2 separate regions of the Homo sapiens genome follow, and region 1 is reported to be linked to region 2. The links are microRNA targets in miRTarBase. Many come from high-throughput screens and were not tested one by one. Region 2 holds a microRNA gene; the other region holds the end of a gene's coding sequence.

What was found. Region 2 holds the annotated microRNA hsa-miR-5571-5p (CAAUUCUCAAAGGAGCCUCCC, at 2,702-2,722, opposite strand). A microRNA usually pairs through its seed, bases 2 to 8, with sites in the 3' UTR of a target mRNA and lowers its output. Matches are read on the target gene's strand: a 7mer-m8 pairs with bases 2 to 8, a 7mer-A1 pairs with bases 2 to 7 and ends in A, and an 8mer does both.
Region 1: miRTarBase lists ACO1 as a target of hsa-miR-5571-5p. Seed matches in the 3' UTR shown: 7mer-m8 at 2,321-2,327.

Annotation. Positions count from the first base shown.
Region 1 is chr9:32,449,299-32,454,298 of GRCh38, reverse strand. It overlaps ACO1 (aconitase 1), which reads right to left. Exons shown (of 21, transcript NM_002197.3): 21 at 1-4,301. The coding sequence ends at 4,188. Among named protein-coding and RNA genes, the nearest start is that of ACO1, 67 kb to the right of the region's middle.
Region 2 is chr22:22,883,845-22,889,012 of GRCh38, reverse strand. MIR5571 (microRNA 5571) reads right to left here and starts at 2,746; the gene lies at 2,634-2,746. It overlaps IGLL5 (immunoglobulin lambda like polypeptide 5), which reads right to left and starts at 1,197. Exons shown (of 3, transcript NM_001178126.2): 1 at 754-1,197. The coding sequence starts at 959. It overlaps LOC105372948 (a long non-coding RNA gene), which reads left to right and starts at 4,414. Exons shown (of 4, transcript XR_938047.2): 1 at 4,414-5,074. It also overlaps IGL.

The DNA of each region.
Region 1 (5,000 bases), not on the chromosome of region 2:
GAGTATCCTGTGGAGCACAGTGCGTGAACGCCCAGAAGAAAGCAGTCTGTGGTCAGGTGGGTTTCTGTGCCATTTGCTGCCACCTTCCCTGCAAACAGTGATTTACAGCACACATTGTTCTTGTGTCTGTTCTGCAGTGATAAAACCCATTTAACTCAGTGGTTCCCAAATGTACTGACCGTGGAACTGTTTTACTCAGGGGACACTGTTAACATCCTGTAGAAGCACAGTAGCAGGTATCCAGCCTGCATACGATAAGACAACCAGAACCAAATTTGGCAGGTACATGTCTGGAACTCTGTTTCATTATGCCGTAAAATAAAACTACGAATTTCATTCAACAAATCTGTACTGAATAAGTAGGCTTCACTCTTGGGATGTCAACTTTTAAAACTTACTTAATATCAGCTATCGTTATATAATCTTTGTTCATAATGACGCTGTCTGGTTGAACACAAACTGGCTGGGTGTTAAATTCCACTTGTGTTTATGATATTTAATAATGTCCTAAGAAGGCAGCCAGTAGAACCTTGGCTACTGTTTTTCAAAAGTGGCTCTGCATTGCTCCTACATAACCCCGTACATTACTCCACAGTCCTGTTAGAGCCCTGAAAGGGAAACTGCTAAAAATAAGGTTCTTCATTTAGGTGACTAGGAACTCCCAATATTTTTGCCCTAGGGAATACTGGGAGACAAATCTCTACGATCACAAATTACTAATGGTTTCCCCAGAACTGCTGGTGGCCATATCCCCTGGCATGTGGAAGGGCCCAGAAGAGGCCACTCTACTGCAGAGGCCAACAGAAGGTATGATTGGTGGAGGGATGGGGGGGTGGTTGGAGGGGCAAATGGAAGGGAGCTTGAGTCACTAGATCCAATCAAGCCCATAGTCATGGCCACCACTGTCCTCAAGTTCTATGAGCCAGCTTTTTTTTTTTTTTCCTTAAGCTAATTTGAGCTGTGCTTCTACCACAGCTAAGATTCATGCCTAATATATCTTTTCCCTAGATTACTCCCTATGTACCATAAAAATCTGGTGTGTAAATACACATGAAGGGCATCCCTCATCCTTATTTGCTATATTAAAAATATTAACTAACTCTTAGCTTGCTGCGGATGCCAGGAATGCAGTAATGAATTTGGAAAACTATCCAAACAAACAGGGGAATCTTCATTCGCAAAGAATATGGGAGGGAGAACAGCAGATTTTTAATTTGGATAGTAAGACGAGCAGCCCTTAAAGAACCAGGTAAAAGAAGTTGGTTTATTTAGGCTTGTTAGTGGGCAAGGTTGAGACACTGGCCAAGATACTTTTTTTTTTGGGGGGGGGGGGGGTGGTGATTGATTGATAGGGTCTCACTCTATTGCCCAGGCTGGAGTGCAGTGGAGCAATCATAGCCACGACCTCCCAGGCTCAAGTGATCCTCCCACCTCAGCCTCCTGAACAGCTGGGACCACAGGTGCACACCTGGCTGATTTATTTTATTTATTTATTTATTTATTTTTTTTTTTGTAGAGTGTTGCCCAGGCTGGTCTCAAACTTCTGGGCTCAAGCAACCCTCCAGCCTCGGCCTCCCAAAGTGTTGGGATCATAGGCATGAGACACCGTGCCTGGCGAAGATATTTTTACCGAAAAGGACAGAGGGTGTACTTGGAGGTAAGGGACCCAATTCCATTAGTCTAGCCACAATAATGTGTTTGTTTCCTCATAACCACAGTCTTGGTTGGGCTGCTGTAACTAAATATCAACTGGGTGGCTTATAAACAATAGAAATTTCTCACAGTTCTGGCTGGAAAGTCTAGGTTCAAGGCACTGGCAGATTCAGTATCTGGTGAGAACCCACTTTCTGGTTCACGGATGGTGACTTCTTGCTGTGTTCTCCCATGGCAGAAGAAATGAGGGGGTCTCTATCTTATCTTGAGTCTCTTTTAAAAGGCACTACCCTCATGATCTAATCACCTTCCAAAGGCCCCAGCTTCTATTACCATTACCTGGGGGGTTAAGGTTTCACCACCTGAATTTTGGGGAGGATACAAAAATACAGACCACAGGAGCCACTGAATGCGGGGAGCGAGACAGCTCCCCAGCTGCTCAGTAATGGAGAGCTGAGAGGGTGGAGGTCTGTTTTCTCAGCCATTCTTAGTGTTTTTATTCTAGGACTGATCTTAACTTGAGGATCACAGGTTTTTTTGTACAATGGAGTTCTGTTTGTTTGTAATTTTTTTTTTTTTTTGAGACGGAGCTTTGCTCTTGTAGCCCAGGCGGGCGTGCAATGGCACGATCTCGGCTCACTGCAGCCTCTGCATCCCGGGTTTAAGCAATTCTCCTGCCTCAGCCTCCTGTGTAGCTGGGATTACAGGCACACAATACCACACCTGGCTAATTTTTTGTATTTTTAGTAGAGACGGGGTTTCACCATGTTGGCCAGGCTGGTCTAGAACTCCTGACCTCAGGTGATCTACCCACCTCGGCCTCCCAAAGTGATGGAATTATAGGCATGAGCCACTGCGCCTGGCTGTTTGTTTGTAATTTATTTTTTAAATGAATATAAATAAGATCCCCAGGACCGCAAGTGCAGGGATGCTAAATAACCTGTCTTGATCCCTCATCTGGTGAGAAGTAGAAAGAGGATTAGATTCCAGATGTTCTGATGACCAGGCCATATCCCCTGAGTGCTAAGGTTGACATTAAAAATTCATTACAAAGATCCTGCCCTCCTGTCCTTGGACATCACAGCTCCTGCTTGTTCCTGGGCATTCAGACTCTGGGACTTATACCAGCATTCCCCATGCCCCTCCCCAGGTTCTTAGGCATTTGGACTTGAACCAAGTTGTTATACCACCAGCTTTCCTGGGTCTCCATAAGAGTGGGACCCTGATCCAATACAATTAGTGTTGCTGTAAGAAGAGACATGAGAGCCTATTTTCTCTCTCCCCCACCAGGCACATACCAAAGAAATGCCATGTGAGAACAAGCAAGAAGGTGGCCATCTGTAAACCAGGAAGAGTGTCCTCACCAGAAAATGAAGTGGCTTCAACTTTGATCTCAGAATTCCAGCCTCCATAACTGTGAGAAAATACATTTCTGTTCTTTCAGCCAGTCTATGGCATTACATTATAGCAACCCAAGCAAACTAAGGCATGCCCAGAAATGACTACAGGGGTAAAAATGAGCAGATAATTGGTTTTTAGTGTCCTGAAGTTTATCTGCTTTTCCTTATGTACTTATATCGTTGCCACTGCCACCAGGCTACTCTTCCTTCTTGTCTGCTCCCAAACAGGGAAGAGCGAGCATAATGGTTCCTAAACATTTCCGTTATACCCGTACAGTTCTGATAGAGTTGTAAAAATGGGAGAATATGAAGGTTATTCAGGCTTCCCAATGATATGGTGTGAGATTCACTCTGTACTAAATATCCCAAAACTCTAGCCACAAACACAGCAAAACTCAAAGTCAACAAGTTTTCACTGAAAATAGATTTCATTTCATTCAAATTAGAAATGTGTTCTCCCAAACCGCCTCCCAACAAAGGTCTCTGCTTGATAAATGAAAAGATAGTAAAAGAAAACTTCACATTTCTTTTTATGTGGATCTATCAAAAGGTACATAATCAAAACAACTTTAACACCCGACCTATCCATGAGGAGTCTGGATGATTCACTCTGAAGGAAAAGGGGAGAGAAGAGAGAATCACTGCTCTGATTTGAAGTGTGCAAAGTTCTTATCTATGTCACTTAACACTGGTATAATTAATACAGAAAGGAAAATGACCCTCAAGAGGAAGGTTTCATTGAGCAGAGCGTAAGAGGAACAATAAGAGGGTAGGAGACACCTCCTGAGAAGGTTTGCTTGTGTTCAGCTGAAGATTAATAGGAAACAGTGAAAAAGCAACGTCCTGTGATCAGTAACTTTAAAGACAAGCTTGGTTCTCTCTTTCTGGCACTACTGACATTCCCACCATTCTAGCTTCCAAATTCTGGAAAAAGAGAAGATGATTAACAAAAATAGAGAATGTAGAAACTTCTGGTTTTGTGCCTACAGGATTGGCACCAGACCCTCAGTGCTCACTTGCTCCATCTACAAGGCAGCACCCCTCCCAGAGGCAGCCAGGGAGGCCTCTCCACCAGGGCCTGCGCTGGCTGGTGGTGCGGCTTCCTCCCTGGGCGCAGCACCAAGTGCACGTCTCCTACTTGGCCATCTTGCGGATCATGTAGTTGAGGATGCCCCCGTTGAGGAAATAAGTGAGCTCCACATCAGTGTCAAACCTCATGACAGCCTGGAAGGTCTTGCCAGTATCCAGCTGTGGCACAAAGAAACAGAAGCATCATTGAGGGAGGTGGCGAGACAGCTCTGCTCGGAGGAAATTCTGCCCAGCCTGCCCCTCAGGTGTGGTCCACACTTCAGTAACACCAGCAGCACATGAGGACATGCAAGGCTGCTGGCCCCAGCCCAGACCCACTAAATCAGAAGATGCATTTCAGCAAGATCTCTGGGAGGCTGCTTTGCCCATTACAGTTTGAGAATCACTGCAGACTGTAAATGATGGGGGTGAGAGCCATCTAAGAACTAGAAATAGCTTCTCAGGGCAGTAGCTATTAATGACATCAGGGTGGTATTTTCTAAACCTCTGGGGGCTCCCTGTGGACAGAAGTATTCAATCAGCAGAGATTTCATTAAGGTTGTCCCTTAGGCAGCTGGCCCATCTGCTTATCTGAGACACAGACTTTTGCACTGCCTCTGTCTGGGGCACCGAATGACCCCTGGGACCTGGTGCTGGGCACTTTATCTTTACCTTGCCTAGGGATCTATCATTTTCACTCTTGGGCTAATCAAAGCCTGGTGCCTATGGGCAGGCTTAGGGAGGGGTGAGTATATCTGTTGCTCACGTTTTTATAGTGAAATGTTTTAGGTAATGTGAAATGTCACATCCCTGAGCTCTCATCACGAGAGACCGGGAACAGGGTACAGTAGGGGGTGGGAGGTAAGAATGGAACTGAGG
Region 2 (5,168 bases):
CCTCCCCTTCCCAGTCACCCAGGAGCTCCCAGCCTCATCCTGTGCTCTCCTCTCCTCTGACGCTGCTCTGTCTTTTGGGGGCACCCATCACCAGCCAGTGCCCCTCGATCTGTGAGACCAGCCTGGGCATCATCCCAGAGGGAGATCCCCTCTCCCTTTATTGCTCCAAACATGGGCCGTGGGCCTGTTCCAATGACTGGACAGCTCCCCTCGGTTCATCCCACCCTCCCTGTGTCCTTGAGCCTGGCCCCAGTAAGCATTTATGTGCAAGTTGGTGAACAGACAGCCTTGGGGGAGACCAAACCAAGCCCTTGCTGCCTTCTCCAGGGAGTGGCCCCTGCCCTCACTGGGCAGGAGGCACATGGGCAGAGAGGAGGAGGGGGAGGAACAGGCCTGGGCACCCTGTGGGGACAGTGGCCACCACCCCCTGTGGATGTCCTGTCCCTGCCTCTGTTCCTTCCCTACCCAGAGGACTAGGACTAGGTGATTGAGGCACTGACCCTGGTGAAAATTTAAGTGGCGCCAGAAAACTCAGAAATCAAGAAAAATAATATCGTAATATGATATTAAAAACAGTAATTCAAACAAATCTGTGATGGACAAAATATCAACCCATTACTAAAGCCAGTGTCAGCCCAGGCCCCTCTTAGGGGTTAACCTTCCTCCTCACTCCTCTGGCTTGTCTCCCCTTGGTCACCCTTTCCCAGCTCTGCTGCAGGACCCCCACATCCCCTGGAATCTCTTGCCCCTTACCTGCCCCACAGGCTCCGCAGGCTGGATCGGCTGCTTCCAACTGAGGCTCCAGGGTCTGGGTCCCCGCTTTGCGGTGCAACCATTGGGCGCAGCAGGCCATGGGCGACCATGGCCAGACCCAGCAGCAGCAGGGGCCAGCGCTGCCTGGGACCAGGGCCCAGCTCCTCAGGGGTCTCACAACCCACTTGGCCTGTCTTGGGTCTCATTGGCCTTCAGGTTCAGGGGCACCTCTGGCCCGACTTGCAGCATGGGCTCCCTGGAGGACGGTGCCCTGGTCCCTCTCGCCAGCAGGGCTGTTACAGTACACCCCAGTCCATTGGCTCTGTCCTCTCCCTGGACTGGCTCTGGTCCCTGTCCCTAGCCCAGGCCCTTCCAGGGTCCATGGCTGTCACCCCTGGGGATCTCTCCCAGAGGGGCATCTACCAACTGCCCTGAAGCGGTCACAATCCAGGGCTCAACTGCCTCCCACCACAGCCGGCTGCCTGGCCCCGCCCCTGGGTGGTGCACACCTGACCCACTTGTCTTCCCCACTTCCCAAAGGGCAGCCTGGGTCTGTGGAGCATCTCCCTAGGGCCTAGAGAGCTGCCCAGCAGGAGTCCCCAAGGGCTTGAGCTCAGGGGGTTGGGGCTGGGGCTGGAGCTGTGGCTTCTTTTCTGATCAGTCTTCCAGGCTGGGTGCCTGTACACTGCACTCCAGCCAGTTGGGACCAGCCCTTTCTTGGCTGGGTTGGTTAAGCCTGGCTGGCTATCCTGTGGCCCTTTCCTGAGTCAGGCAAGAGCCCTGCAGGGAGTGATTCTATATCCTTCAGGCAAGGAAGAGTGGTGAAGTCATAAATGTGGAGTCTATCTAGACCTAGGTTACCTCTGGGCCTCAGTTTCCTTATCTGTAAAATGGGGAGAGTTCCTCTGCAGCATGAAGCTTATGAGAGTTAAAGAAACCATGTGTTTGCTAAGCACTCAGTGGGTGTTGAATAAATTCTGGTTCTTTTTTTGTTCTTCTCTTACTTTGGGATTCACAACTACTTGTGGGGTGTCCTTGGGGCCAGTGTCTCTGTTTTACAGGTGAGAAAATTACCATCCAGAGAAGATGAATGCAGGGTCCAATATCATTCCTTAAGTAGGGAGCAAGCTGCGCTAGGATCTAGGAAGGGGCTCGTCCCCTGTATTTCTATTCGTCTGTCCACCTGGAATACTCGTGCCTGGCTCCATTCGGCAGTGGTGGAGGAGGAGAGGGCTGGCAGGTGCTTTAAGTTGGGGTCCTTTTTGACTATAATATGGGAATATGATGCATAATACAATAATAATGCATTACATTATTATTGCTTTACAAGCACTAATCCTGGGAGCTAAGATCATCTACTGTCCTCCACATTTGAAGATGAGGAAATGCTGCTCAGGCTGATTCCCTACTCTTTTAATGTCACAGGGCCAAGAGGCAGTAGGTCTGGAGTCGGAATCTGAGGCCTGGTCCTTGCATGACACTAGGGCGTGCTTTGCTGATGATGACATGGCTCTCTGGGTCTAGGTGGTAACACACTGCTTGGTGCATGGGAAAACCCAGAGCTTGGCACAAAGGAGTGGCTCAATTAAACATGGACTAAATCTGGTTGAATAAACCTCTTTTGCTTCATGTGACCCCTTGTGTCATTTGCACTCCTTTACGCCCCATTCATCGCTCCCATCTTTTCTGTTGCCCTGAGAGCCTAGTATAAAAATGTTTGAGGAGATCTTCAGGACCCCATACTCTGGTGAGAAAGGCCCCTGCTCTGCCCCCTTACATTACAGAACTGCAATGAGGGTCTGCCCTCTTGCTTTCCAGTTTCTTTTTCTGCCACAAAATCTTTAAAAATATCTGCTCAAGTTCAGATCTGCAGCCCTCTAGGACTCTCAATGTTTTGTTTTAGCAACTCTCAGAGGAGCCTCCTAGGACTTCCTAAAGTGAATTTCCTGGGAGGCTCCTTTGAGAATTGCTTGGTTCACATTTTGTGTCAGATACTCCTTAACTTCCTTGATACATTTGGTGACAATCAAGCCAGACATTTTTGTGGGCTATGGTAACAGACAAATAGCCTGAGACTTCATTTCATTGATAAAGTTGATGGTTGTTGGGAGACAGTGGTCTACTATGGATCTCTGCATTTCTGCATGTCTCTCGGGCAAAGGCACTGATTGTGGATTATCTTTTCAAGAGTGTTTGTGGAGTGAACAACCTCGGAAGGTACAGAGAATGCCTCTCTTTGGAGCAAAACACAGATATATGCTTACTGTCAAGTATGAAATATTTGGGATCCCTGAGCTCTGGCATGCAGATGTCACCTGGCCCTCTTTGCATCACCTTGTGGAACTGGTGCAAGACAATGCTGATACCTTGGCAACTGCTATTGCTGTGAAAAACAGATTATTCGTTGTCTCTGACCCAGGAGTCTTGTATCTTCTGCCAGCATCCATGGCACTGTGGCAGGCTTACTTTTTAGTCTGCAAATAGGATGAAGTCTCAGACTCTTAACAGTTCTTGAAGGTGATGATAATGAGGAGGAGGAGGAAGAAAGAGATGAAGTTGAGGATGGTGATCATGACTTAATGGTTCGACTCATCGAATCGGTTTTCAAAGATCTCCAGGCTGGATCTTTATACACATTGCTTGGGTAACTTTTGAGGACCAGGTGCTGGGGGCTGGATTATACAAATAATCACCACACATCCCTGTCCTTCAAAATAGGCAAGGCACTGAGCAGTAACAGGGTGTAGGTGCCCTAACAGACATCATTCAGGGCACAAGGGAGGGCCCTGGGAAACCCCTGGTCCAGCACAGCTTCTCCACTGGGGAGCTTGGCCTATTCCTGCCTCTGATCTTGGGCTCCTTGGATATTCGGGGCTGGGGCAGGGTCTGCCCTGGGAGTCTAGGCTGAAGCTGCTCCCTTCCAGCCCCTCTGTGGGTATGACACTCACCCACTGCTCAGGACCCAGAAGCTGTGGTTCCTTTCAGGGACAGTCCCAGGTCTTGGGGATAAAAAGGGGCTGTCCCTAAATGTAGCATCCCCAGCTGCTGCCCCTACCCCCACCCTTGCACCTGCCATGGCCTCTGGATAGACATCGTCACCGCAGACCACATCCTTCCATGGTGGCTGCAGTCGGAAATCCGAGTCTGTCTGGGGACCCTGGAGGACTGGACTAGGCCTCCCCAGCAGGTGCAGCTGCAGCTCTGGCCACCCAGGCCTATCCCCTGCCCTGAGATGTGCAAGGGCTGGATCCAGGCCTGGGCAGAAGCAGCCAAGTCCAGCTGTCCTGTTTGGCAGACCCCCTGCTGAGGGTCTGTGGTGCCTCTGCAGAGCTCTCTGGGTCCCGCCCTGGCCCTTCTCTCCCAAAGCAGAGGGATGTACCCCATCCAGTTGCTTCTGCCCTGCTCCATGTCTGAGGGTATCCCCCACCTTGGCCTTCTGCTGGTCAGTCCCCTGCCCAGTCTCCATCCCCCAGGTCCCAGAAACTCCACCTGCAGGCACTGCAGACTCCTCTCCCCCAGGTCCAGGGGTCCCCAGCTCCCCACTCCCCACCATCCCTAAATTCAAGCTGGCTGGTCTTTCTTGTCTCATCTTGAGCTTCTCACTCTTGGGATCTGGGGGAGTCTGAGGCACAGGATGACAAAGTATTGGCTGGGGATATGACAAAGGTTCTGGATCTCTGAGTCCCCAGAGTTAGAAGCTGGCTCTGCAGCTCCTGATCCCCCTCTGAGGAGTCCTCAGGAACCCCAAAGACCCCAGCTCCTCTGGTGATCCTGGGTTGCAGCCTCCACCCCAGCTCTCCTCCAGGAAATGGAAGAGATCCCTGCTCCCTTTGTAGATGTCACAGAGTGGACTTGCCAACCTGGCAGGGAGGTCTTCTAGCTACTTCTACCAGTGTGGAAACACAGTCTCAGAGAGGGAGAGTTTCTTGCCCAAGGCACACAGCGACTTGGTGTAAAGACTGTGTCTTGGGACTTACTAATAGCAATCAAAGACCTGGAGGACCAGCCTTTTTGGACATGAGGTGGAGCCAGCCTGGAACTGGAGGGTGGAGTTTTGGGAGGTTTCTGTTCTTTAACCTCCACCAGCTGCCTGGAGTGCAGCTGTAAGGGGAGAATCCAGTAGGGGGCAGAAGAGACCAGCAGTAGAGGAAGCCTGAGGAGGAACTGGCTGGAGCTCTTCAGAAGAGAAAGGCCAAGACCCAGGGGAGGGCTCTGGTGGCCGGGCAGAAGGCGGTGCAGGGGCCTGACTCTGGTTTTGCATCCCTGTGGGTACTCACTCACCTGTGGGACTGTGGGTAGGACCAAGAACAAAACCACTGAGGTGAGTGAGTCAGATCCTGAAATTTTGTTCATTGTGGGTTTGTTGGGCATTAATTTTGATTTTTGAAAATATTGCATTAAGTATTATTTATCTG